Linked DNA regions of Homo sapiens. The protein of the gene in region 7 interacts with the protein of the main gene of each other region in a biochemical or structural test. Each region holds a gene or a part of one and is shown on either strand. Other genes may lie near its edges.

Region 1 (4,070 bases), on a different chromosome or scaffold from region 7:
CATTCTAACTAAGAATTTAGGCAAAACTTTAAAACATTTGCCCCTAAACATACACCAAACAAGATTTCCACGTTTCTGGAAAACTTTTCTTGTTTAAAAGTGGCCATATTAACTCTCAAGCGGGGGGCAGAAGTACTCTCAATAACAAACCTCCTTGCAATTTTCTGCTAGTCTCTTACTTTGCTCCTTAAAGACAACTTACTAAAAACCATGATCACTGATCCCGCTTTTAGAGTTTGTAAGTCATAAATAAATACTAAACAGATAACAATGGATACTGTACTGTACACCTCAATTATGTTTAACAGACAAAACTATTTTAAAAATACAAATCACAGTTTAATAACAACCTAACGAAGTCATACAAGTTAAAAAAAAAAGCTGAAAAGTTTTTATTACCATCTCACGTAAATTGTATTACTATCCCACTTTATTATACTTTTTTTTTAAAGTTAGGCATCTATGCTCAAACTGATTAAATCGAGTATGAGAGATCTATACTTTTTTTAAAAGTCCTTCAACAATAATGAAGTGTACACTGGTCACAGAATAGTTCAAATGAAATTTCCTGAGGCTGCATTCTAAGTACATCCGACCCAGAAAGTATTTTTAGCAAGTACGTTCAATCAATGCTGGTTTTATGCCTAGCCTAAATTAGAAATTGGGTGTTATAAATTTAAAGTAACAATGTTACTAGGGACATTTTAAAAGATATTTAATTAGAACATAAGAAAAAAACACAAGTTTGACTCAATTCAATACCTACAGCTCTGAAGCTAAGATGTTAGAAAATGGGCAGTAAGAAAAATCACATCCTCGTCTATTACTACTTTTGAGGAACTCGTGATTTTCTAACTTAATAAACATGGACCTACTCAATTAATATTTTTAAAAACTACAAAATAGTGGTGCCTCCTTGGATTTTAAAAACCTCTTGCCAAATTTTTAAAACAGACTGGCAACATGACAAACATTCCCATGTACAAAATAGACTGTTTCTCTTATAAATCACTGAAGATTATGATACTATGGGACCGTGCGTGTTTCAATGCAAAATGTAACAAAGATATGTGTACCATAAAAAATGCGAAGAGACATAAAAATTGCTTTTGTGGTAATTGGAGCATAAATTTATTCTAACAAAAAAACAGTGATGTCCACAAAATGATCACACTTACGAGCTAGTGAAGAGGTTCTGTAGAATACACAAACTTCTGCTTACGAGTTTTTTCTTTAAAAGAAAGCTGAATTTATATTAGTCAAATTCAAGATTTAGATGATATACCTAGCTCTATTCCATTAAGCACAGTTTAGGCTCTGAACAATCCTTTATTTTAAGGCCATCTCCTTCCCCCTTAAAATTGAAAAAAAATTTTTTTCCTCTGGCACGTTAAAGTTCAGAAAACCAAGATTTAAAAATGCCCTGGCTTTTACTGTTCCAGTCTTCTTTCTACTCTAATTGTCTTTTGCAAGTCGGACACATTGGCCTTTTATCTTTCTCCATAAATATGTTTTAAATGTGACCAATCAGCTGTACTGTTTCAACTGGGCCCAAGATCTGGACACAGAAACTTAGTATTACTGAAACCTCTTATTCGAAAAGCAGCTGGCATATTGCAGATGCATAACAAGTTATCCTAGAACAGGCGTTTTGAAAAATCCTACAAATCGTCCTTGTACATACTGATGTCACTACATGATGCAAGCCCAGACATAAAATCTTCCACCCTAAGTTTTGCAGAAACATCCACACATCACCTGTGCAACTGTAAGCTGTTCCATTTTATGGAAACCCTGCGAAATGCATCACTGTTTACCCACATCTCAACTTTTTTTTTTTTTTTTTTTTTGGCTCAACTACAGATTCCCAAATACAGGTATATACTGGTAGAATCATAACAGGCTTAAAACTTCAATGGTAGGAATAGTTGGCTCATGCAGCGTGCAAGAAGCGCTCATATGAGCCAAAAAAAAAAAAAAAAAAAAAAGGAATTCTACCAGCAATGGAAAACTCAAGATTCCAAAGCTTTACCTAGAGTTTAGGTACTGGGAACATTCCATCTCCGCACCTATTCCATCCCTTGGCCCTTCGCTGACCCATAACAGAGATTCCAACTATAACCCCCGCAAAAGCAGAGGTCCCAGGAAGAAAGGAAAGAAAGCGTTTTTTTGTTTGTTTGTTTGTTTGTTTTTGTCCTTTTTTCCTTCCTTTCAAATCATCCTCGTACCTCCGGCTTGCCCCACCTGGCTCACCTCCCAGGAGCCACACATGCAGGTAAGAGCCTCCCGTTCAACGTGCAGGGCCGAGAGGCCGGCGGGGACCGGAGAACCTCTTACCTTCGTATATCACAGCCGCGTCCTCTCGGCTGGAGAAAAAAAGCCTCGAGGCCCCGGCGCGCAGAGGAGAAGCGCGTCCTCCGTGCCGCTCCGGGGGGCTACCTCAGCGCCCCCCGAGCAGCCGCCGCCGCAGCGGTCGCGCCACGACCCGGAGCCGCCAGCACCACCTCATGCTGCTGGGCAGCCGCGGGCCGGCGCCGCTGGGGAGGTGGCAGGGAGGCGGGCAGCCGGCGACCTCTCCTACCTCCCTGCAGGGATGAGATAATCCACACCCCCAAAAGTGCGTGGGGGAGGGGGCCTGGCCCCAATCCTCCGACCCCGCGGCCAAAGCCAAGTCTCTTTCCTCTCCCGCTCAGGCCCAATTCCGGCCCCTGGGACCCAGGAGTCCTGAGAGAACAATGTTGGTGGTGGGGCGCGAGGAGCGGAAAAGCGCACTGCGCGGCGTGAGCTGGCGGGTAATCCTGGGCAGCGTTTGTGTGTGAGAGTGCAAGAGGAGCTCAGTCACCCCCCTCCTTCTCCACCTCCTCTTCCTCCCCCTCCTCCTCCTCTATCTCTTCCTCCTCCCTCAAGCACACCCCCTCTCCTAGGCCGCAGCATAGCAACCGAACATGGCGGCTGCGCAGGCGCCGCCAGTCAGTGGCCAGGAGCGGCGGCGGCAGCAACAGGAGGCGATCTCGCGAGAGGCGAGGCCAAAACCCTGCCTCGCTAGCGCAGGGAGAAGTCGCACCAGTCGGAGCGCAGAGGGACACGCAGGTGCGAGAGAGAGCGGCCTAGGAGGATTGGGAGGGCGGATTGGAGGGGGGAGGCGGAGCGCTGTGGCCCCCGCCCCGCAGCCGCGTCGCGATTGGTTGTTTGGACTGCGACCCCTGCTGCACCCACTGACCGCAGGGACCGGATAGTGGGCAAGAAGCGTGTGTTAAAAGGGAAAACCAGACCAGTTGGCAGCAGGTCGCCCCAACCTCAGTGCTCCTGGAGGATATAGGTTTTGGGGGGCAGTTTTGAATCATTTCCTCTCCTAAACGTAGGCTCCAAAACAAAGCCTCAGCAACCAACCTGCGTTTATAAAACAAACGTTCGGGGGCTCCTTCTGTGTGCCTGGAACGGTGTGCTTTTTAAAATTTAATTCCTTCTAATAACATGAATTTGGTGTTATCACGCCAGGGTTTTTAGCCAGGTGCATTATAATATTTTATTGGTGATACAAACTTATTGGTAATACCACAGTTGCCTACTGGCGAATGATCTCAGCTGAAATGGAGGAAGAAGGGATTTGGGGACCGCCACACTTCCTTTTTGCCCAATTTTTGTTAGTGCCCTTTTCTGTCGCCAGGCGCCTTCTTTGTCCTTCCTTGCTCTTAGCTTGAGCATCCTATCAGAGCCTACCTTTATAAAGACGATCTTTCAAAAACCACTTTCCCAAGCCGACAAAATGACTACAAATCAGGGGAATGTGAACAAATCTGGAAAAGACAGAAATTTCTATTGACTCTCTTCTCCCTCACACCTGTTAGTTTTTCCATTTGAAAAAGGCAACTTGTCAATCCATGTTTCCAGCTTTACTTCCTTCACTTGCTTTTCTTCCCAGATCTCTGTTGTAGCCAGTGCTCATTCATTCCTCCCTAAATATGCATTCCTGCCTCTGACTCTCCATTTTGTCTTTGATCATGCCATTCCCTCTGCTAAAATGCTCTTCACCTCATTGTCATCTGTCAACATCCAGTCATCCTCCAACC
Region 2 (3,500 bases), on a different chromosome or scaffold from region 7:
CTTTTGTTTTTCCATGTGGGGCCTGAGAAGTACTACTTCCACATATTCCTCGTAATAGAAGTTAAATTCTTGAAAACGGCTTTGCTCTCCTAGCAAAATCTTGCCTTTTGCTTACAGGGTGAAAGAACTATTACCTCTCTCTAGGAGGTTCACTTCTAGACCTGGATGAAGCCTGCTTCTGTTCAGGCCCCAAGGCTTGCTGCGAGGGCTCAGCCCCTTTGCTCCTGTCTGGTGGTGCGCTGGGAGGAGCAGCATCCTGGGAGGAGGCAGCTGCTGTGCTTAGGGGTGTCTGAGACCGCGATCGCTCTTGGAGTCGTGCTTTCTTTTCTCTTGGTACCTCAGAGCCAGCACCTGTAGCTGTATCACTCAGGGTTCCATCCTGACTTGTCTGCTGAGGGCCACTTCCAAAGAACCATGCCCCAGATTTGGTTAAGATTTCTTGTTGCTTTCGACATAAATTGCATACCCACATAACCTATTTGAAGAAGAAAGAACAATATAAATTTTTATGCCCTCTTGGAAATAATTTTTCAGTATCTTAAAATATATTTAAGAAAAAAAGAACAGTATTCATTTTCATATTTATCCTTGCAAATTTCTTGTGAAAATGGTCCTCCCACAAGTCACAGTCAAATATATGAATGCCTAGACAGGGACTTGTCTGAGACTAGAGAGCCTCTCAGCAGCCAGAGTAGAGGTTTTTTCTCAGCATTTCTGATTTGATTATTCTGAATTTCCTTTTACCATATATCTGTCATATTTTTTATAATTGACTCTGGAGTGTTAGCAAAAATGTTCTAAGCAAGGTAGTTAACTGATTAGAAAAATGTTACCAGGAAAAAAAAAGAAAAATGTTACCAGGAACTACAGAATCAGTACGTAAATACATAAACCTCAGTACTTGCAAGTATTTTTAAAAAGTCTGTCTTTTCAAAAATCACCCACAATTAAAGGCAATATTAAAAATATTCACATAGAAGAAACATACAAAGTAAGCACACAAAAAAGGTCAATGTGTATATTTTCTCTAGTTTCTTAGTGATAAACTAACCTTAAGCTTATTTATGCTATAAAATATAATTTTCCATGCACATATTTACTAAAGCAATAAATGTGACTCTGAGTTTATTCATATGTGACCACTCCAATGTAATGTTCCCCAAGGAGAGCTATTGGGGAACCATCATTTAGCAACATATCCACTGATAAATTATAAGATGTAGCACCACTTAAAATAAACTATATGTCTGTTCTCCATTTGATGACCTTTAAAATGAATGTAATAATGAGGACGATTATCATAATAAAAAATAATAATAGCAGCAATGACTAGCTGTCACAGGGCAAAGATAGGTGCTAACAGCTCCATGAGCTGTCTTTTCAAATATCCTCAGTACCTCTGTTTCTTTGTGCTGTGACTTTACATCGCTGCCTCAGTTACATGCCTCCAAAAGCACTTCAGGTGTTTTGTGTTTGTTTCTACTTCAGAAACTACCTCCACAGGAAAAACTAATTACCAAACTCTAGGCTTCCTTTTCACAAATACTGACTCAATCAACATGTACTCAAAAATATTGCATCAGGATGAATAAATCGTAGAAACATTAACTGATAAGTAATAGAAAATAGTAAAAGAAGCATTGTTTAGTAGGTCAAATGAAGAAAATGAACTACTGAAAATATTCAGATAAATGGGGAAAAACTGTAACTGTAGCCATAGAATAAGATGAAGCTAAAATAAGAATAAGAAAAAGACAGGAAAAAAGTAATACACTTTTTTAAAAGGAAAATACTGCAGGTGAATTAAGAACTGCTTTCCAGGAAAGAAAACTCAAATGAATTATAATATAGGAAAAATTAAGACTGAAGAGAAATACTTGCTATAAAAAATTTAAAATTCATGAAGGTTAATTGATTTATTTAGACTTTCCCAGTCATAAAATGAAGTGTACTAGGTTCAAAAAAGCAGTTAGGTATAATGTCTACACAAAGTATTATAACCAATATTACGGAATTCTCATCTACTAAGATGTCAAACAAGATGAACAATTCATTGCATAAACCTATATCAAAATAAGGATTTTATGGAAAGTAACTTCAATTTAAGTGCTAGCCAAATAAGGGTATATTTTACAAAATCTATTACTGAGTAGGTCCCTCAGAAGTCCTGATTGTTTGAACATGGACATATTAAGGGTAACATTAAAAGGTGCAGTACTCCAGGGCCAGGACCTTCATGAACAGTCAGTGACACTGAGTCTCTTCTGCCCAGAACCCTGAGTGGGGACAGGACGTGTGTGGTGGGAAGGTTTTGGTTGGTTGGTTTGTTTTTTGTCTCTTTAGCTGACAGACCATAATAAGAAAGTTTGAAATCATGTAATTCAACAAGACTGGTATGAAATTTTGACTATTTTACATCAAATAAGAAGACGTTAAATTTGTATTTCTCAGACTAATAGTAAGCAACTTATTATCATCATTTAAAGTAGGTTCTTTTCAGCCAGGTGTGGTGGCTGACACCTGTAATCCCAGCACTTTGGGAGGCTGAGGGGAGCAGATCTTCTGAGGTCAGGAGTTCGAGATCAGTCAGGCCAACATGGTGAAATCCCGTCTCTACTAAAAATACAAAACTTAGCCGGGCATGGTGGTGCATGCCTATAATCCCAGCTACTTGGGAGGCTGAGGCAGAAGAATCACTTGAACCCGGAAGGCAGAGGTTTCAGTGAGCTGAGATCCCGCCACTGTTCTCCAGCCTGGACGATAGAGCGAGACTCCATCTCAAAATAAATAATAAGAAATAAAATAAAATCAAGTAGGTTCTTTTCTACAGAAATATCAAGGTATACTTAGGATAAATATGCAGTTTTTAAAAAACCAGAAAACACAAATTTACAATTACAAAGTTTCTAAAATTGAATAAAGCTAAATAAAGAAGCAGAAAGGAGCACAATAATACTGATGAAGGGTAAAGGATACTCTTCATTTTACATTTGAATATTCTCTAGAAATTATTATCACAATCTTATTTTGATTGCTTCACATTTTTAAACGTTACAAAAAATGGGTCAATGAGAACTAACTGCCAGATTTGGGCATGTTCCAAATTTTGAGTATGTGCAGAACTGCTACCAGATCAATTAAAAGAAACACAATTTATTATTATTAAATAAGTTGAATTTTACAATTTAATTTCATTTCCAGTTTATTCAAAAGGTTACAATTAGTGACTATGTCAAAACAGCATAGGCATTTTAAATTCTATTCTTAAAATACTTTGTATTCATTTAAGTCTGTGATGCTTTGTTAATTTTTTTGTTTTTAACATTTAGTAAAATACTGTATAATTCCAAACTTTTTCTATGTCTTATTTCCTTGTACACCACAACATTTTTAAATTTGTATTTTTAAATTAACTATAAGTGTAGTCAATCCATCCTCCAAACTGAAAGTAAAATTAACCATGGCAATGTTAAAATATTTATTTTTATCAAAATATCACC
Region 3 (3,500 bases), on a different chromosome or scaffold from region 7:
TTCTAATCTGTTTCTCTTGCTACTGGAGACCCACCACCCTTACATCAGAACCATGGGGCGCCATTCCTCTGCCACCTGGATGCCCAGCTGAGGCCATACTAGGCTGCTGTTAGGGAGTGCCCAAATGCAGAAGAGCCCCAAGTTATGCCATCTGTGGGTGGTAAGGTGTTCACAGAGTTCATTCTCTAAACTGGAATGCCCTTGAGAGTGTAAGGGGGACTCTTAGTCATGATGCCAGGACAACAGGCCTAACTGAGACTATCGCAGATGAGCTGGGACTTAGAGATCACTCTGGGAGTATACCCAGAAATACAGACATATCCCTCCTCCTCAAGAGGGGAGTGGGGTGGTAGGGGTGGGCCTGGACAGTGGATGGGCACTGTGAGGCTAGTGACGTTTGCTAGTTGTCATCTCACCTCCCGCTGTCCCCACAGTGGGTCATTCTGAAGACAGCAGGAGGGTCTATGTGGAAAGAAGGGCTCTGTTACCTCTGAAATCTCATTATCAGCAGAGGAAATCTGCTCGAGGCGCGTTTGACAGAGCCTCTCCACCCAATATTGAATCTTTTCCGATTCTTCAAGGTCTTCCCGCTCTGTCTCAGACACCTGGGACCCAGGATCGGCGCAGAAAGGAGAGGACAAAGGGCACATTTGAATAACATGTGGATAGAAATAGCATGAAAGCACTCCTTTAGAAACTCCAGAGTACTGTGAGGTGCATCAGCTATCTAGAAAGAGACCTGGGCTTGTTCCAACTGGCCCTCAAGGAGGCAGCAGCAAGGGAGAAGAGAGTGGCGGGGTGTCAAATTCACTAAGCAGAACTTGTAGGCAAAATCAGAAAAGGGGCTTATGTATTGTGAGGGATTAGCTGGATCCCAGATCCCCATGAACCCTGAGGCTCTTATGATTTTCCAAGAATGGAGTTTTTGTAGCCTCCCCCAGCACATTCCAAGAGTTTAACTTGACTCTTTTTTTTCCTGCTCCATTCTGCCTTGCCCTCAGAAGCATAAGTTCAATCTTATTTTTAATTTTGTGGCTAATTTGTTCATAATGTCAGACCTAATGCATTTCACATTTTCCAGGACTTCTCTGGTTTTATAATCTAATCAAATTGGCATTCTGATTCATGGATGCGTTAAAGAGAAGCAGAAACAATGATACCTCCTACAGCTGGGGAGTTAAGGTTACCCATCTCACCTAGCATAGGAATTATTCATGGTGTAAGGTTGCTTTGGACATGTCTTCATGGGGACAGCCTCAGATATATTCCCAGGTTGATGAGGTCTAGCCTTAGACACACCCTATGTTGAGGGGAGCAGCCTTAGACTGATAGCCTGATTAATTGGGAGATAACCTCGCACCTACCACCTGCATAAGGGGGTTAGCCTCAGACCCATATTCTCAGAGCCAAGCTAAGTTGGGTGGGGGGGGGTCTGGTCTTACAATAACCTGGGAAGGGAGGCCAGAGTGATTCAGACTCGTAGACAGGTCAGTGGAAGCCTAACTTCAAAGCTACAAGCAAGGCAGAAGGGTTAGCCGCAGACCATACTCTAAGTAGCCTCAGAGCCACACCTGAGATGGAGAGGCCCAGCCTTAGACTCTGGTGGGGTAGAGTGAAGAGGACAGACTCAAATCTCTAAGCCAGGTGTATCAAAGGCTAACCTGAGACCTACCATCTGGTCAGAAAGGCTAACCTCAGACTCACACCCCCCGACCAAGGAGGCTAGTTTCAATTCCAAAGCCAGGAGCAAGACTCACACCCCCAAGCAAGGAGATTAGTTTCAATTCCTAAGCCAGGAGCTAACCTCAGATGGCCCTGGGCAGGTGGCATGATCTCTCTCTCCAGGCTGGGGAGCAGGAAAGGGCTCACTCCACCCTTGTATGCCATTTGAGGAGAACAACTCCAGCTGGTCCTCTGGGAGCACATGGAGAACGACCACATTGTGTCCCAGGGTTGCTTGCCTGGCCTGCAGGCAGGACACATACCTCCTGGGCCAGCCGGTTGATCTTTAGCTGCTTTTCCTTCTCCAGCATTTCCTCTTTCTCTTTGTAAAGCTTTTGCTCAAACTCCAGTTCTTTCTTATTCTTTCTCAAGTCCTGCAGGCTGCCATACTTGGCTTTCTTCTTATCTTTTCCTTTCTGAGTAGATGTGGCATTGTTTATATGACAAAGGTTAGAAATAGTGTCGACAGCACAGCACACGGGGCATCCAGTCCTCACATAACACAACCATCCCATGGTGAGCCCCTCCCCCAGCTCTCTCACCACTCTGGACATCAGACCTCAGGTTTAGGACAGGAAGGCCACTGCTACCTACTGCAGAGTGGGAGACACATTCTCTTTACCAGCCAGAAAGACTGGCTTATTAGTTCACTAACTAGCTGTGTGGCCTTGGCTAAGTTCCTTAACCTCTCTGGGCCTGATTTGCCTCATCTCCAAAATGGTAAAAATACCTCCCCCACAGGCTTGCCACCCAGTGCCAATGAAATAACATCCATGAAAGAACTTTGTAAAAGTTCTGTATAAATAAAAAATAAAATAAAAAAATAAATAAGTGCCATATAAATAAAGGGCATTGTGCTGATTTTCCAGTATCTGGCACATGCCTTCTGCATCATCTCATGTTCAGATTCAGAGATGCATCCTGGGAGATTCCAGAGAAAATCTGGGAGGGCTGGCAAGCTTCATCTGTAGAGGTCCCGTCCTAAGCTAGAAGTGATAGGAGTCACACTGAGACCTGGGGGCTCAGACCCAGGGACATCAGATTTTACCCGCATGCTTAAGCTCTGGACCATTTCACCCTGGAGAGTCTAGACCCACAGTTTCCTCTGAATTGTGCCCCTCTACCGAGGGCTAGCTGGAAACTGCAGGACTGGGAGGCAGGGCATGGAGAGAATGGCTTAACTGCTTTACACTCACCATCAGGGTTCTAGAGGATTTGGGGAGGGACATGAAAGGCAAATAGACTCCTTATTTTTCCTGTAGGAATTAGACCCACCGAGCCTGCATTCCTGGCTGCTTCTCTCATGGGGTTGCAGGGAAGCCAGGGGCTAAGGCAGGAAGAGAATGATCATTTATGAACTGCCTATGTGCCAAGGGATTTATACCAATGATCTCCTATGTAGGTTTATCCTCATTCTTTGATGAAGGAGCTGAGGCTCAGAGAGGTAAAGTCCCTTGTTCAATGTCAGACATCTTGTAACTGATAGTACCAGGATTTGGACCTGAGTCTTCGAGGTCCTAGTTTTTCTATGGTGCCCTGATGAGCTGGGGGCAAGGGAAACACGGCAGGAGGGAGGGTCAGCCCCTATCACACACAGCGTGGAGGACAGAGCGAGCATTCAGGAGAGGGGCAGCAGAGACAGCCCACACCCTGGGCAATTTCTGGGGCAAGGAGGAAACCCCCTGTTCACTGAGCTCACCCCCGCCCCCAACAAGCCTTCTGGGGATCTGCTCTTGAATTTTCTGAATCATCTTAGTATCCAAGGCCAGGAATAAGGA
Region 4 (3,500 bases), on a different chromosome or scaffold from region 7:
GTCCTAGGTGTTAAGAAGGAAGTGAGGCTGGGCGGCTCATGCGTGTAATCCCAGCACTTTGGGAGGCTGAGGCAGGCAGATTGCCTGAGGTCACGAGTTCAAGACCAGCCTGGCCAACATGGTGAAACCCTGTCTCTATTAAAAATACAAAAATTAGCCAGATATGGTGTTGGGTGCCTGTAATCCCAGCTACTCAGGAGGCTGAGGCAGGAGAATTGCTTGAACCCAGGAGGCGGAGGTTGCAGTGAGCCGAGATCGCATCATTGCACTCCATCCTGGGTGACAAGGGCAAAACTCCGTCTTTAAAAAAAAAAAAAAATTGACCTGCCCCCTTATCCCCACCCCTGGCACTCTTGCTTTCCTTCTCTTTCTTTTTTTCCTTAGCTTTGTAAGGTAGGTTTAGGGTTATTTATGTTTGCTGCTATTTACTGTCTCCATTCAGCTAAAATATAAACTGTGAGGCAGGGATCTTTGCCACTTTTTCTCACTGATGGTCACCTACGAGATATCAATAAATAGCTGCTGAATGCATGGATAGAGGACTTGGAAGTGCTTATGTCTTGACATTGTGTTTGTCTGCCAGTGCTGAAGAGACCTGTCACCTCTGAGGAACTCCTTACTCCCGGGGCTCCGTATGCAAGGAAGACATTCACGGTAGGCTGATGGTCTGGCCTTTTTCTCCCGTGCTGCCCATTTTTCTGCACCGTGTCCATGTGTCAATGGGTAGCTTATAGACTGAAATGAAAACTACTTTTCTAATTTTCTTTTTGTTTTTAGCGTAATTATGATACTAGGCTTTCTTGACCTCAAGGCACTAAGGTGCATTAGGACTTCACATGCGTTATTATTAATATACCATTTAAAAATTTTTTGATGTGTTCTTTGTTAAAGAAAAGATTTCCATTATGCATTTATTCTAATTTAATTGCAAATTTCAAGATTGGCATCATTTGCACTTGCATTTACCTTAAAATCTAATAATTTTAGATTTTATTTCCCACCATTAGTCATTTAAATTATTATTAGATTTTATGGCAAATGGAAGTGCAAATGATGCCAATAATCCCTTCTGCATTAGGATTAATTCTAGAAATTATTTAAAACATTAGGGGAGTGTTAAGCTAGAGAAAGGAAACTGTGGGATAAACTTTTCTACCGTAGGCAGGGTGCTTCGACAATGTGTGCATGCCTTGAGGTACACGAGCCTCTGACTTGCTGTGAGCAGCTCCGGACCACCTGCCCCTTCTTGGAGGTCCTTTAGGTTCCTAATGCCTACGTTGGATTTCTTCAAATGGAATGAAAGTGCTCTTTTCAGCATCACCGCACCCACTCCCCTTCCTGTGTCTCCTTCTGTCAATCTCCTCAAATTCACGTTCATACCCTCTTCAAAACACTTCTCCTCCTTCATCTTCTAACTTTAGTGGCATTGCCTCAGGCTGGGGGAGAATTCTATCCACACTCAGTCATGCTGCAAACATTTGCTGAGGGCTATTTCACATTCTGAATGCTGAGGAGTTAATAGGAGAAAGGCGCTGACAACATGTCTGTACCAGAGGAAAAGATAAACTCCACCTTCGGAAGTGAAATTGAGTATAATATACAAATAACAGCAAACTGTAAAGTAACGGAAGTGCCTGAAAATCTTGAGCATTTCCACAAAAATTTTCATTTGCCTCCCTGTTTTTCCTCAGTCTCCAGCATTCAAGAGAGGTAGATTGTTATTTTGAAAGTATTTATTTTTGATTTTTAATTTAAATGCCAACATTGTTAGTAATTGATTGTGAATGTGTTTCAGCTGTGTTTTGGTTGGGATATGTGTGAAAGATGTGGCTAGGAGCTGTCCAGGGAATTAAACTGCCAGCTCTAATAATGATTTCTATAGAAAAGGCCTTCTCTAATTCCAAACAACTTTTGGATTAGAGTCTACTTGTACATTGTGAACTTTATGTACTTTTTCACTTCTTTTCCCCCCTTGGTGGAGAAAGGGGCATGGTGGAGCCCTTGGTGGAGGGCTCCCTTGGTGGAGGCTGGGCATGGTGGCTCACGCCTGTAATCCCAGCACTTTGGAGGCTGAGGCAGGTGGATCACCTGAGCTCAGGAGTTCGAGACCAGCCTGACCATCATGGTGAAACCCTGTCTCTACTAAAAATACACAAAATTAGCCAGGCATGGTGTTGCATGCCTGTAATCCCAGTTACTCAGGAGGCTGAGGCAGGAGAATCGCTTGAACCCGGGAGGTGGGGTTGCAGTGAGCTGAGATTGCACTACTGCACTCCAGCCTGGGTGACAGAGCAAGACTCTGTCTCAAAAAAAAAAAAAAAAAAGCCAGGTCTCTTTATTTCCCACCATTAGTAATTTCAATAATTATGCTAGACTTCAATGACGTTGCAGGATCAAGAGTGTATCATTTGGATACTGGGGAAAAGAACAAACTTAGAGCAGAAATTGTATCTGGAGAGACATTTCAACCACGTTACGACTTTTTCTAAACCTTCTATTGGAGTCTGACATTAAATTGTATAACAGCCTAAGAAAGAGAAAATCTTCCAGTTGTTTATTGAATCATGCCCTCATGGGAGCATCTTCTTTCTGCCAAACAGGTTAGATTTTTTTTACCACCTTTTCTACAGGGAGATGCCCGGGTTTGTGATAGAAGCAGTGTTCCAATCCCCTGGCAGGGAAGAGAGAAACGGAGGAAAATATGTCACAGTGTATACTTAATCCTGGGCTGGTTTTCTCTCCCTCAGAAGAATAAGCAAATTGCCGGAGACAGTCGGCTGCTTGCTAATTGTGGTTTTCCTCTCTAGATTGTTGGTGACGCGGTTGGCTGGGGTTTTGTGGTGCGAGGAAGTAAGCCATGCCACATCCAGGCTGTAGACCCCAGTGGCCCTGCAGCCGCAGCAGGAATGAAGGTACTAACGGGTCTTTCTCACCCTCTTTTATATCTGTCTTGGGTTCTTCATGCTAAATTGGCCATGATTCTTACTAGGGATCCAAACCCATCTTATTTTGTGTCCTTTTCTATTTCTGCCCTCTCTTTCTTGTTCTCCAAAGTCTTTAACCTTTCCCTGGGTCTTCCCTCTCCTCTAATAAACATTTAGAAGTGTCTAGCCAGGCGCGGTGGCTCACACCTGTAATTCCAGCACATTCAGAGGCCAAGGCAGACATATCACTTGAGGTCAGGAGTTCAAGACTAGCCTGGCCACCGTGGCGAAACCCTATCCCTACTAAAAATACAAAAATTAGCCGGGCGTGGTGGCACACACCTGTAATCCCAGCTACTCAGGAGGCTGAGGCAGGAGAATCGCTTGAACCCAGGAGGCAGAAGTTGTAGTGAGCCAAGATCGCACCACTGCACTCCAGCCTGGGTGACAAAGCGAGACTCTGTCTCTAAAACAAAACAAAACAAAACAACAACAACAACAACAAAACAACATTTAGCAGTGTCTAAATACCTCTAGCTTAATTTCATTATTTGGTGCCATGTGTACTTTTTCTCC
Region 5 (2,333 bases), on a different chromosome or scaffold from region 7:
ATAACAAAAACATCTCAGTATACTTCATTACTTATTTAAGCGTGATGTCTTTTTTTTTTTTTTTTTTTTTTTTTTTTTTTTTTTTTTTTGAGACAGAGTCTCGCTGTCTCCCAGGCTGGAGTGCAGTGGCATGATCTCGGCTCACTGCAAGCTCCGCCTCCCAGGTTCACGCCATTCTCCTGCCTCAGCCTCCGGAGTAGCTGGGAGTACAGGCGCGGCTAATTTTTTGTATTTTTAGTAGAGACGGGGTTTCACCATGTTAGCCAGGATGGTCTCGATCTCCTGACCTCGTGATCCACCTGCCTCGGCCTCCCAAAGTGCTGGGATTACAGGCGTGAGCCACCACGCCCGGCCACGTGATCTTATTTTAAAAGAACACTGCTATAGAAGAATTTACACACCAAATTCCCTGAAAGCTAAAGTATTGTTCCATAACTTACACTTGAGGCAATCTGCTCAGTGTGTAACCACTTTATAAAAAATAACTTACCATTGATAACCTGGAAGGTGGACTACTTGTAAGTAGCTGGTGTTTATTGATTAAACCATGGAAGTTTTCATGATACCCAAGCATGTTGCTGAAACTGATGCATTTGAAAGAGCTGTTGAAATAATGCAAAACTTTGGTTTTATAAGAATCTACTCATGTTTTAAAAGTATTTAACTCTGTAGACCACAATTATAGAAAGCTCAGTAATGCTGCTAATGACATTTGTAAACTATATCTGTAATGTAGTGCAATATTTTTATATTTCACTGGGAGAGGCAGTAGAGACATCATAGTTGTACTTTAGTGCAAGTGGGGGAACACTCCAAATAGCCTAGAGTATAGTAAGGTACAAAGCTTCAATGAAAAAAGCTGTATTATATTACATTACTGATGTAATCTTGCTGCCATGCTATGTATCAATAGCTAAAAAATAATAATAAAGACTACCACAGAAAACAAGAATATCTTCATTTAATGAAATCTTTAAAAAAGGTGATTGCTGCATCTCTATGGAATTATCTTCTGGTATAATTTGGCCATGCAGAAAAGCATAACAAAGTCCACTTTTCCTAAACAAAATTGCTGTTTTGCAGACTGCCCCAAAACATTTTTTTACTATTGTTTCCTTATGGATTATCAAGTTTATGGGTTTCCTTTGGCTATGTATTAGTAATTAGACTTTAAAATATATTTTCTACATTAGTATTAGCTGAGTGAATGGCTTAGACAAACTGAGCAACATTTTAGCATTATTAGCAATCATAATAGGCTATACTTCTTCATATCAAGCCTTATATTCAATATCAGAAGTACTTGAAATAAGTGGCTATTTTGTGATGCTGGGAGGAGAAAACACAACCTAAAAATTTTGAGGGGTACTATCAAGTTCTAAATGTATAGCTGAATTTTTTTTAAAGCAATTTGGAAATATTTGGCTCTTAAAAATAAGATAAATAATAAAATGTTAAGTCCCCTAAAAGTGAATAAATTTTAAATACCTACTTTTAAAAATACTGTCTTCTAAATTGACATAATTGCTTTTCTTACCAAAAGAAGGAGAGGTTCCCCTAATTCCTTTTGGGCCATAGATCCGCTTTTAGGATCTGATTAAAGATGTGGACTTTCACCGCAGGAAGATACCCATGGGCACACCATTCAAAATGTATCAGATTTCAACGGTTTTACAAACTCCCCCGGGATTAAGTCAAATGGGTGGATATTACAGCTGTTTTCATCAGATATGGTTATTTGTTGACAACCATCAGGACAACAATGTTTATAGATGGAAGGATAACTTCCTGGTTTTTTTCCACATTGAATGTGGCTAGTTACATATCTCAATTTAAAATAAATTGTGGAAAGCCAAAAAAGTATGGTCAAGCTAACCTGGGGTGGCTTTTACCTGATGCCTACAAGCACAGAAAAATAGTTTTTAATTAAATATCCACAGTCAAAATGATACCTTATGTATTTTATTCCAACAACATTTGGTTTATAAAGGAATACAAACAGGCACAAAACATGGTTCAGAAGATTTATTAAGTAAACTTGCTAAAATATGGACAGATACACTTAGCAGTCAAACAGTTGAATATTCATTGCTACCTCATTAAAGTTTTTGTATCTGTATTACCAGGTCCAAACATAAAAACCACCTCTGTTCAAAAAATAAATGTTCAGAGAGCTGTATGTTCTTTGTTCTGGTATGTACATTTTAAAAAAACACCTCTTTCCAGTCTTGCTAACCAAGAATATTAGTCATATAAAAGAACTTAGAATTTTTTTCCCCAAGTACAAGCTATCTTTTGCTCCAAAACAGTTCTGAAGGTTTTATTTATATTTT
Region 6 (4,004 bases), on a different chromosome or scaffold from region 7:
TGGCTGGGGGTTCCCTCACTTGCCCAAACCTGGAAATGAAGCATGTAGCAATTTCTCCAAGTGATCTCCTGCAGCCGGGGCAGCCTCTGGGAACGCAGACTTCCACCCGCTGCTGCTTTCCAGGCAAAGGCCTTCTCCCTCCAGGCTTGTCCAAGAAGACGGGGAGGTGGTGGGAGAGAAGAGGAAGAGATGGAAGGGCTGTGAAAGCGGGGACCGGGTGAGGGCTGGGGCTGAGGAACAGGTAGGCGGCGGGCCCAGGCTGGCCAGTGCTGTGTGCAGGCCCGGGTCCCAAGGCCTCCGAGGCCACTCTCCCCACGACCCACCCCCTCCCCACGCTTCGCTCATCCTTTTTTCTTTCTCTCTTTCTTTTCTTTCCTCCCTTTCTCTCTTTCTTTCTTGTTTTAAACAAAGGTGTCCGTTTCAAAGACAGCAGGGAATGGCTGAGTTGAAGGAGGGATGCAGTCATTTAAGGCGAAGCCCGAGGAAGGAGCAGAGGCGTGAGGGCTGCTGCGTCCAAGACCGGGGAGAGGGGCTGAAATCGCGGACTCTCTCTGGGGGACCCAGGAGACTGCTCCTCCTGGCAGGACCCCTCTCTCCCAGAGCGGCATCGCGCAGACAACGCGCCTGGTGCCCGCCCCTCAGGACCGGACGCCGGGTGTCGTGGGGTGCCTAGGACCCCCGCCCGCTTCCGTCGAGCGCCCGCCCCCGGCTTCCCGCGCCGGCTCCAGCGCCCCCGCCGCTCCCTCCCGCAGCCGGCCCCGCTCCCCTCCCCGCCCCTCCCGGCGCGCGTGCGCCCCGTGCCCGCGCCCCTCCCCCGCCGCCGTGGGCGCGCTCGCGTGCCCGTCGTCCCGGGCGGGAGCTGGAGACGGCCAGCGGCTGCTGGACGAAGAGCGGGCGCCGGGAGCTCCGAGAGCGCGGCCGGGCGAGGCGGGAGCGCGGGCGCTGGCCTGGCCGCGGGCGGGGGCCGCCGCCGCGCCGCTGCCCCCCTGTCGCGGGCCGGGCCGCGGCGCCGAGCGCGAGGGCCGGGCTCCCGGGGCTGGCGGCCATGGGCAGGAGCCGGAGGCGGCAGCGGCAGCGGCGGGCCCCGCGGGCGGGGAGGCGCGCGGCCCACGGCCCCTGACGGCCCCTGGCGGCCCGGCGCGCCCCCGCGCTCCCTGGGGGGCCGTAGCCTGGCAACGCCCGGCGCGCCCGCCCATCCCCCGCTGCCCTTTTTCTCCTGGCCGGGTGCGAGGGAGCATGCCCGCGCCTGGCCTCGGCCAGCGAAGAGTTAACCTGAGGGGCGAGCCGCTGCCCCCACCTCGGGGGCGTGCCCCCCTCCCCCGCTAGGCGGCCCGCCCCCCGCGCCAGGGTATGGCCCCTGGCCCCGGCCCGGGACCCGAGGTCCCGCGCCCGGGTCAGTGAAAGGCGTCTTCCCGTTCCCGCCCTCCGCCTCCTCTCGCCGGCCAGCAACATGGGATGTAATATGTGCGTGGTCCAGAAACCGGAGGAGCAGTACAAAGTGATGCTGCAGGTAGGGCCGCCGGCGCTGCGGCGGGGGCGCGGCCCTCCGCGGGGAGGAGCGGGCCAGTGGGGAGGCCCGGAGCGGCGGGCGTGGGAGAGCGGGAGGGCTCGAGGAGGACAAGGTAGGGAGCCGTCCGCACCCTCCCATCCTGGGGCTGTTGGGTGTTGGCGCTCCGTGGGAACCAGCCACGGGTGGGGTGGGAAGTTGGGGTTGGCCCGGGTGGGGCGCGCTTCCGTCCCGGGAGGCGCGGTGCGGCGGGCGCGGGATGGAGGTTGCATAGCAACGAGCGCAGTTCCCCGCACACGCTCTCCCCGCAGGACCCAGGGCGGGGGAGGGAGCCAGGCTCCCGCCGTGCGGGGGGCGCCGAATCTAGATCCCGGCGGGCCTGGAGCGTGGGAGTGCGTGGGCGTCCCCGGGCGCGGTCCAAGTCCGTCCGGGGGCTGGGTGCCCACCCCGACACCCACTCCCGCCTGGCCCTGCCCGAACGATGGGCTCCCGGGCCTTAGGCGTCTCGGGTGAGTGGGCGCCGCCGGGATCAGCGGGTTGGGCTCTCTGCGGGTGGCAGTGCCTGGCCGGGCTTTGCGGGGCGTGGACCAGCAGGGCCCCGCGGGGAGGGAAGGAGACGCGGGGCCCGGAGCTCGGACCTGGAGCCCAGCCCCGCGGCCCGGAACGGGGCTTCTTGCCTGTGCGTGGCGTGACTACGTGAGTGCGTTCCTGTGCCCCGTCTCTGTGTGCGCGGAGGCTCCCCCGGCCCCGCATTTGTGTACTTTCTGTGTGCACCCTGCAGACTGTCTAGAGAAATGTCCCGGATGCTGTGGGCTGAGACCTCCTAGGGCTAAGTGGAGGGAGGTCAAGGTCAAGGCACCCAGGAGCAGACAGGGCTCAGACAGGTATGCGTTTAGTGGCCTGGATTCAACTCCCGGGTTTATTGGTCTGGACTGGGAAGGAATCAAGTGCTTTGCAGGAGGGGTGTTGGCTTGGGAGAACGTGGGGGAACCCGTGCAGGGATCGGCGAGAACTCCGGGGCGGGGGCGGGGGCGGGGGAAGGAGGGGCTGGGCACGGGGGAGAATTCCCAGGAATCCGGGGACTGACTTCACGCTGTGAGCCGAGCTCCTCTGGCCACCTGGTGCGGGAGCCGAGGGGCAGGGCGGGGACGCAAATCTTGCCCCACCCTGGCGGAGCTCCTGGTCCTCTCTCCCCGGCCCTTCTCCGGGGGTGCGCGGGGCCCTCGGCTTCTCCCGTTCGCTGTCCTCCGCCTTCTTCCCTCTCAGTTCCCGGCTGCCACTCCTCGTCTCTTGTTCCCGCTGTTTGGAAACCTTGTGTGGCCATTGCCAGCCCCCTAGCGGGATAGGAATGCGACCGAGAGGGCGTCCTGTGGAATCCGTGTTGGATTCCAGGGCTGGGATGGTTGGTTGACGGGGACTCTGGATCCCATCCTCCTGCTTCCTTTTCGGGAGTCATTCCATCAAACGGCAAGCGATTTCTCCAAGCGATTCCTCCGGGGCCGTTTTGACTTTCCTGGAGAAGGATTGGTGTCGCACTTCATTTAAGGCCAACCTCGTGGGGACGTGTGGATAGGGGAGAGCGACCCGAGCTGCACCCCAGGCCTGAAATGAGCCATGGGACGACACCGGTAGCCCTTGGGGCTCCCCACAGCCCTCCGGGAAGGCCTCGGCAGGTCGGGCTGGGCCTGCCTTCAGGGAGGTGAACTTGGGTGGGCCCTCCCTGCTCTGCGCCCTAAGCTCTCCTTCATGGAAGGGACTTGCCCACCCCAAGGAGACCCGCCAGGAGGAGGGCCACTGCCGCATGCGCCCTCTGTGCGCTTTCCTGCTGGGCTCCCTTTGAAACCGTGGGAGTTTGGCTGCAAACTTTCACTTTCTACATTCCTCCTTGGCCCAATCAAAGCCGGGATTTTACGAGGAGAACCATCCTTCACAACTAAGGGAAAACAAGAGGACTGAAAAAAGTAGATACGGAAAGCAGTGCAAGCCATGAGCTGTCCCAGGGGACTGCGCTTCTGGGGGTGGACGCATCACCAGGTCCCAGCCTCTTCAGAGGAGAAGGAGCTTTTGTTCCAAAAGACAGGTCAGCTTCTGGGACCCCGTGCCTGCCTCCCGGCCTCCTTAAACACGGGTGCTCCCCCATCTTTAGGGGGCACTTCTCCCTGTCCCCCCTGAGTAACCTCGTCCGCACCTTGTCAGGGTGAGGCACTTCATGGGCCTGATTTTCAGAAAGAAGCACATGTGCATCTGCAGCGCCTTCCATCTACAATCCACAGAGGCCTGGGATCCCCAGGCCAGGAACCCCCAAGTCTCTAGCCTAGCCTTGTGTTCCAAGCCATTTTCTGCCAATGACTCACAACACTTCCAAAATTACAGCTGTATTGAGCTATCATTCTCCTACTGCACAACTTACCCTTTCAAAGTGTACAAGTCAGTGGTTTTTAGTATACTCACAAGGTTGTGCAGCCCACACCAGTAATTCCAGAACGTTTTCATCACC
Region 7 (3,278 bases):
GATAATCGTTCATAGACAAAAAGATGTGCATATGTTTTTAACAGCAATTATTTGTTTTTCTCACAGCAGGAATCCCAGCTCCAGTGTATTTTGGAGTTTTGATTGATACTTCATGCCTCAAATGGGGATTTAAAAGATGTGGAAGTAGAGGATCATGCAGATTATATGATTCAAATGTCTTCAGGTACCAAATCAAAAGCATTCCCGCATCTCATTGCTACAGCATCCCAGATTTACACAATGCCACTGACACTAACAAGTTTTCATGTCATTTCACTGCTTGTAAGGTAAAGAATAGTCTAATCAAAAAGTGTGATCTGTAGTCATAGAATAATTATATTATTATTTGATTAGATCTTTGATTTTGTCCCTATTCATTACCTTGACCCCCATTTTAAATGAGTAATCATTTTTAAAATATGACAAAAGTGTCCAGAATACAGTAGAATTTTGAAAGTTTATGCACACAAATGGGCAAGTATTTCCCTGAAATTCAGAGGCATTTAAATTTAGGTCACATTTTGGGTTTGATTTTTATTCTTTTTCAAACTGAGCCAAACTGTACCACTTACGTCAGATATAATACCCCTGGGCAAGAGTTGGATTTGGCTCTAAATCTGTCCGGCTTTTATTGCCAAACTAATGTTCAATTATTCTCGTACTTGAAATGCATGAAAGTAAAAGGTTTTCTCTGTGTGGGTGAGTGTATATGGGGGTTGGGTGGCGTGGCTTTTTCACTATGGTATCATTCAGTTCAGCTCATTAAACATTTAGTCCCTTATTGCTTAAAAAAATGCAAAAAGCATTGAAGCAATGGCTTAAAAGCAAGAAAGATTGTTTAAAAGACTTACAAACTGAGCATTTTCTGGAGAAATAAACTTGGTACTGAACCATCTAAGTTGGATGTGAATTGGGCACACCATTTTGAATAAATTTGTTTGAGTTAATAGGTTTTGATGCTATGCGTGAAATTTATTTTGGTCTTTGAAAGGGACCCAATCTGTGAGTATAATTTAGTATTTCCTCACATTTTTGCTAAGGCTGTATTAACTGTAATGTAGAGACAATGCAACTCAATCAGAGATTGAGAGTATGTTTTCAAGGTAACCAGAATGAGACATTCAACCTGTTCTTCCATACCTTAGCATCTTCTGACAAAGCATAGAACTATAGGTTTCTCATGAAATAAACTGATTTAAATCTCTGGTTTATTCTGAAATCATTCTGCTTTACTCAGAGCTCCAATTCCCATTAGCATTTCTTTATGCAAGTTTTCCAAAGAAATGAAGTTGGGAAAGGTCTGAGGATAGGGTAGCCACATAATTTATCATTCAAAACTGGGTACTTTTGAGTGTGAAAAGGAGCACTATTAAAATTATACTGGGCCAGCACTAGCATAAACTGGGGCTGTTCTAGGCAAACAGGGATATGGTTACCTGGTCTAAGGAAATAATTTACAGAGAGGATGAAACTGATTATGTAATTAGTAGTAACTAAAAATGATGGTGCTACTAAGACATTGCTTTATTTTATAAACTGCCTTCAACAGTCTGTCAGTATTTCATAAAACAGTCTTTTATATAAGCCACCAAATCTACATTCTTAAAGAAAACCATCAGTATGATATTATTACCTTTTAAATTTTCTTTCAAGTTGGTTGTTGCATTAATTATAACAGAGATTCTCTCTTCTTCTAGACATATATATCTGGGACTAACTGTGATACTGGGCACAGTGTCAATTCTCCTAAGCATTGCAGTACTTTTCATTTTAAAGAAAAATTATGTTTCAAAACACAGAAGTTTTATAACCAAGAGAGAAAGAACAATGGTGTCTACAAGATTCCAAAAGGAAAATTACACTACAAGTGATCATCTGCTACAACCCAACTACTGGCCAGGCAAGGAAACTCAACTTTAGAAACATGATGACTGGAAGTCATGTCTTCTAATTGGTTGACATTTTGCAAACAAATAAATTGTAATCAAAAGAGCTCTAAATTTGTAATTTCTTTCTCCTTTCAAAAAATGTCTACTTTGTTTTGGTCCTAGGCATTAGGTAATATAACTGATAATATACTGAAACATATAATGGAAGATGCAGATGATAAAACTAATTTTGAACTTTTTAATTTATATAAATTATTTTATATCACTTACTTATTTCACTTTATTTTGCTTTGTGCTCATTGATATATATTAGCTGTACTCCTAGAAGAACAATTGTCTCTATTGTCACACATGGTTATATTTAAAGTAATTTCTGAACTGTGTAATGTGTCTAGAGTAAGCAAATACTGCTAACAATTAACTCATACCTTGGGTTCCTTCAAGTATTACTCCTATAGTATTTTCTCCCATAGCTGTCTTCATCTGTGTATTTTAATAATGATCTTAGGATGGAGCAGAACATGGAGAGGAAGATTTCATTTTAAGCTCCTCCTTTTCTTTGAAATACAATAATTTATATAGAAATGTGTAGCAGCAAATTATATTGGGGATTAGAATTTTGAATTAATAGCTCTCCTACTATTAATTTACATGTGCTTTTTGTGTGGCGCTATAAGTGACTATGGTTGTAAAGTAATAAAATTGATGTTAACATGCCCAATTATTGTTCTTTTATGAATCCAATGAATTTAAAACTATTGTTAAATATAATACTGCCCCACTTTAATATATGTAAGCAACTTCCTACTTATACACGACGTGTTCCTAAAACATGTTTGAAAGGTGAATTTCTGAAAGTCTACAATAAATGTAGGTGTTACAACAGGAATGGAGAGTGATGGATGAATTGATGGGAAGTCTGAGTGTGGTACCTTTTGGTGCTCCACAGGCCCACATCACAGGGCCTAGGGACTCCTGCACAGGGAGTTCCCCCTGGGACAGCCTGCCAGATAGCTCTGTTTCTCTGCAACTGAAAAAGTCAAGCCAAGAGTTTCTTTTCTTTTTTTTTTAAGACATAGTCTCACTCTGTTGCCCAGGCTGGAGTGCAATGGCGCGATCTCGGCTCACTGCAAGCTCCGCCTCCCGCGTTCACGCCATTCTCCTGCCTCAGCCTCCTGAGTAGCTGGGACTATCAGCGCCCGCCACCATGCCCGGCTAATTTTTTGTATTTTTAGTAGAAACGGGGTTTCACCGTGTTAGCCAGGATGATCTTGATTTCCTGACCTCGTGATCCACCCGCCTCGGCCTCCCAAAGTGCTGAGATTACAGGTGTGAGCCACCACGCCCGGCCAAGAGTTTCTTCTTTCCTGACTTCCTGATGCTCTTCTG

The links.
Region 1: the proteins of SLCO1C1 (region 7) and PTPN4 interact in a test that uses a peptide from one of them, tested with the Homo sapiens proteins (one large-scale study listed by IntAct).
Region 2: the proteins of SLCO1C1 (region 7) and RIMS1 interact in a test that uses a peptide from one of them, tested with the Homo sapiens proteins (one large-scale study listed by IntAct).
Region 3: the proteins of SLCO1C1 (region 7) and USH1C interact in a test that uses a peptide from one of them, tested with the Homo sapiens proteins (one large-scale study listed by IntAct).
Region 4: the proteins of SLCO1C1 (region 7) and DEPTOR interact in a test that uses a peptide from one of them, tested with the Homo sapiens proteins (one large-scale study listed by IntAct).
Region 5: the proteins of SLCO1C1 (region 7) and PDZD8 interact in a test that uses a peptide from one of them, tested with the Homo sapiens proteins (one large-scale study listed by IntAct).
Region 6: the proteins of SLCO1C1 (region 7) and PDZD4 interact in a test that uses a peptide from one of them, tested with the Homo sapiens proteins (one large-scale study listed by IntAct).

What each region holds. Positions count from the first base shown.
Region 1 is NC_000002.12:119,758,652-119,762,721, reverse strand, and holds the start of PTPN4 (tyrosine-protein phosphatase non-receptor type 4), read right to left. Parts: upstream 2,801-4,070; 5' UTR 2,338-2,800; intron 1-2,337. UniProt on the Homo sapiens protein: Phosphatase that plays a role in immunity, learning, synaptic plasticity or cell homeostasis. Regulates neuronal cell homeostasis by protecting neurons against apoptosis.
Region 2 is NC_000006.12:72,176,550-72,180,049, reverse strand, and holds part of RIMS1 (regulating synaptic membrane exocytosis protein 1), read right to left. Parts: intron 476-3,500; coding exon 135-475; intron 1-134. UniProt on the Homo sapiens protein: Rab effector involved in exocytosis. May act as scaffold protein that regulates neurotransmitter release at the active zone.
Region 3 is NC_000011.10:17,509,917-17,513,416, forward strand, and holds part of USH1C (harmonin), read right to left. Parts: intron 2,139-3,500; coding exon 1,986-2,138; intron 606-1,985; coding exon 489-605; intron 1-488. UniProt on the Homo sapiens protein: Anchoring/scaffolding protein that is a part of the functional network formed by USH1C, USH1G, CDH23 and MYO7A that mediates mechanotransduction in cochlear hair cells. Required for normal development and maintenance of cochlear hair cell bundles.
Region 4 is NC_000008.11:120,006,222-120,009,721, forward strand, and holds part of DEPTOR (DEP domain-containing mTOR-interacting protein), read left to right. Parts: intron 1-583; coding exon 584-654; intron 655-2,807; coding exon 2,808-2,912; intron 2,913-3,500. UniProt on the Homo sapiens protein: Negative regulator of the mTORC1 and mTORC2 complexes: inhibits the protein kinase activity of MTOR, thereby inactivating both complexes. DEPTOR inhibits mTORC1 and mTORC2 to induce autophagy.
Region 5 is NC_000010.11:117,279,108-117,281,440, reverse strand, and holds part of PDZD8 (PDZ domain-containing protein 8), read left to right. Parts: 3' UTR 1-2,333. UniProt on the Homo sapiens protein: Molecular tethering protein that connects endoplasmic reticulum and mitochondria membranes. PDZD8-dependent endoplasmic reticulum-mitochondria membrane tethering is essential for endoplasmic reticulum-mitochondria Ca(2+) transfer.
Region 6 is NC_000023.11:153,827,745-153,831,748, reverse strand, and holds the start of PDZD4 (PDZ domain-containing protein 4), read left to right. Parts: upstream 1-1,204; 5' UTR 1,205-1,450; coding exon 1,451-1,510; intron 1,511-1,789; exon of another isoform or gene 1,790-2,016; intron 2,017-4,004.
Region 7 is NC_000012.12:20,750,609-20,753,886, forward strand, and holds the end of SLCO1C1 (solute carrier organic anion transporter family member 1C1), read left to right. Parts: intron 1-66; coding exon 67-184; coding exon of another isoform or gene 185-287; intron 288-1,697; coding exon 1,698-1,920; 3' UTR 1,921-2,778; downstream 2,779-3,278. UniProt on the Homo sapiens protein: Mediates the Na(+)-independent high affinity transport of organic anions such as the thyroid hormones L-thyroxine (T4), L-thyroxine sulfate (T4S), and 3,3',5'-triiodo-L-thyronine (reverse T3, rT3) at the plasma membrane.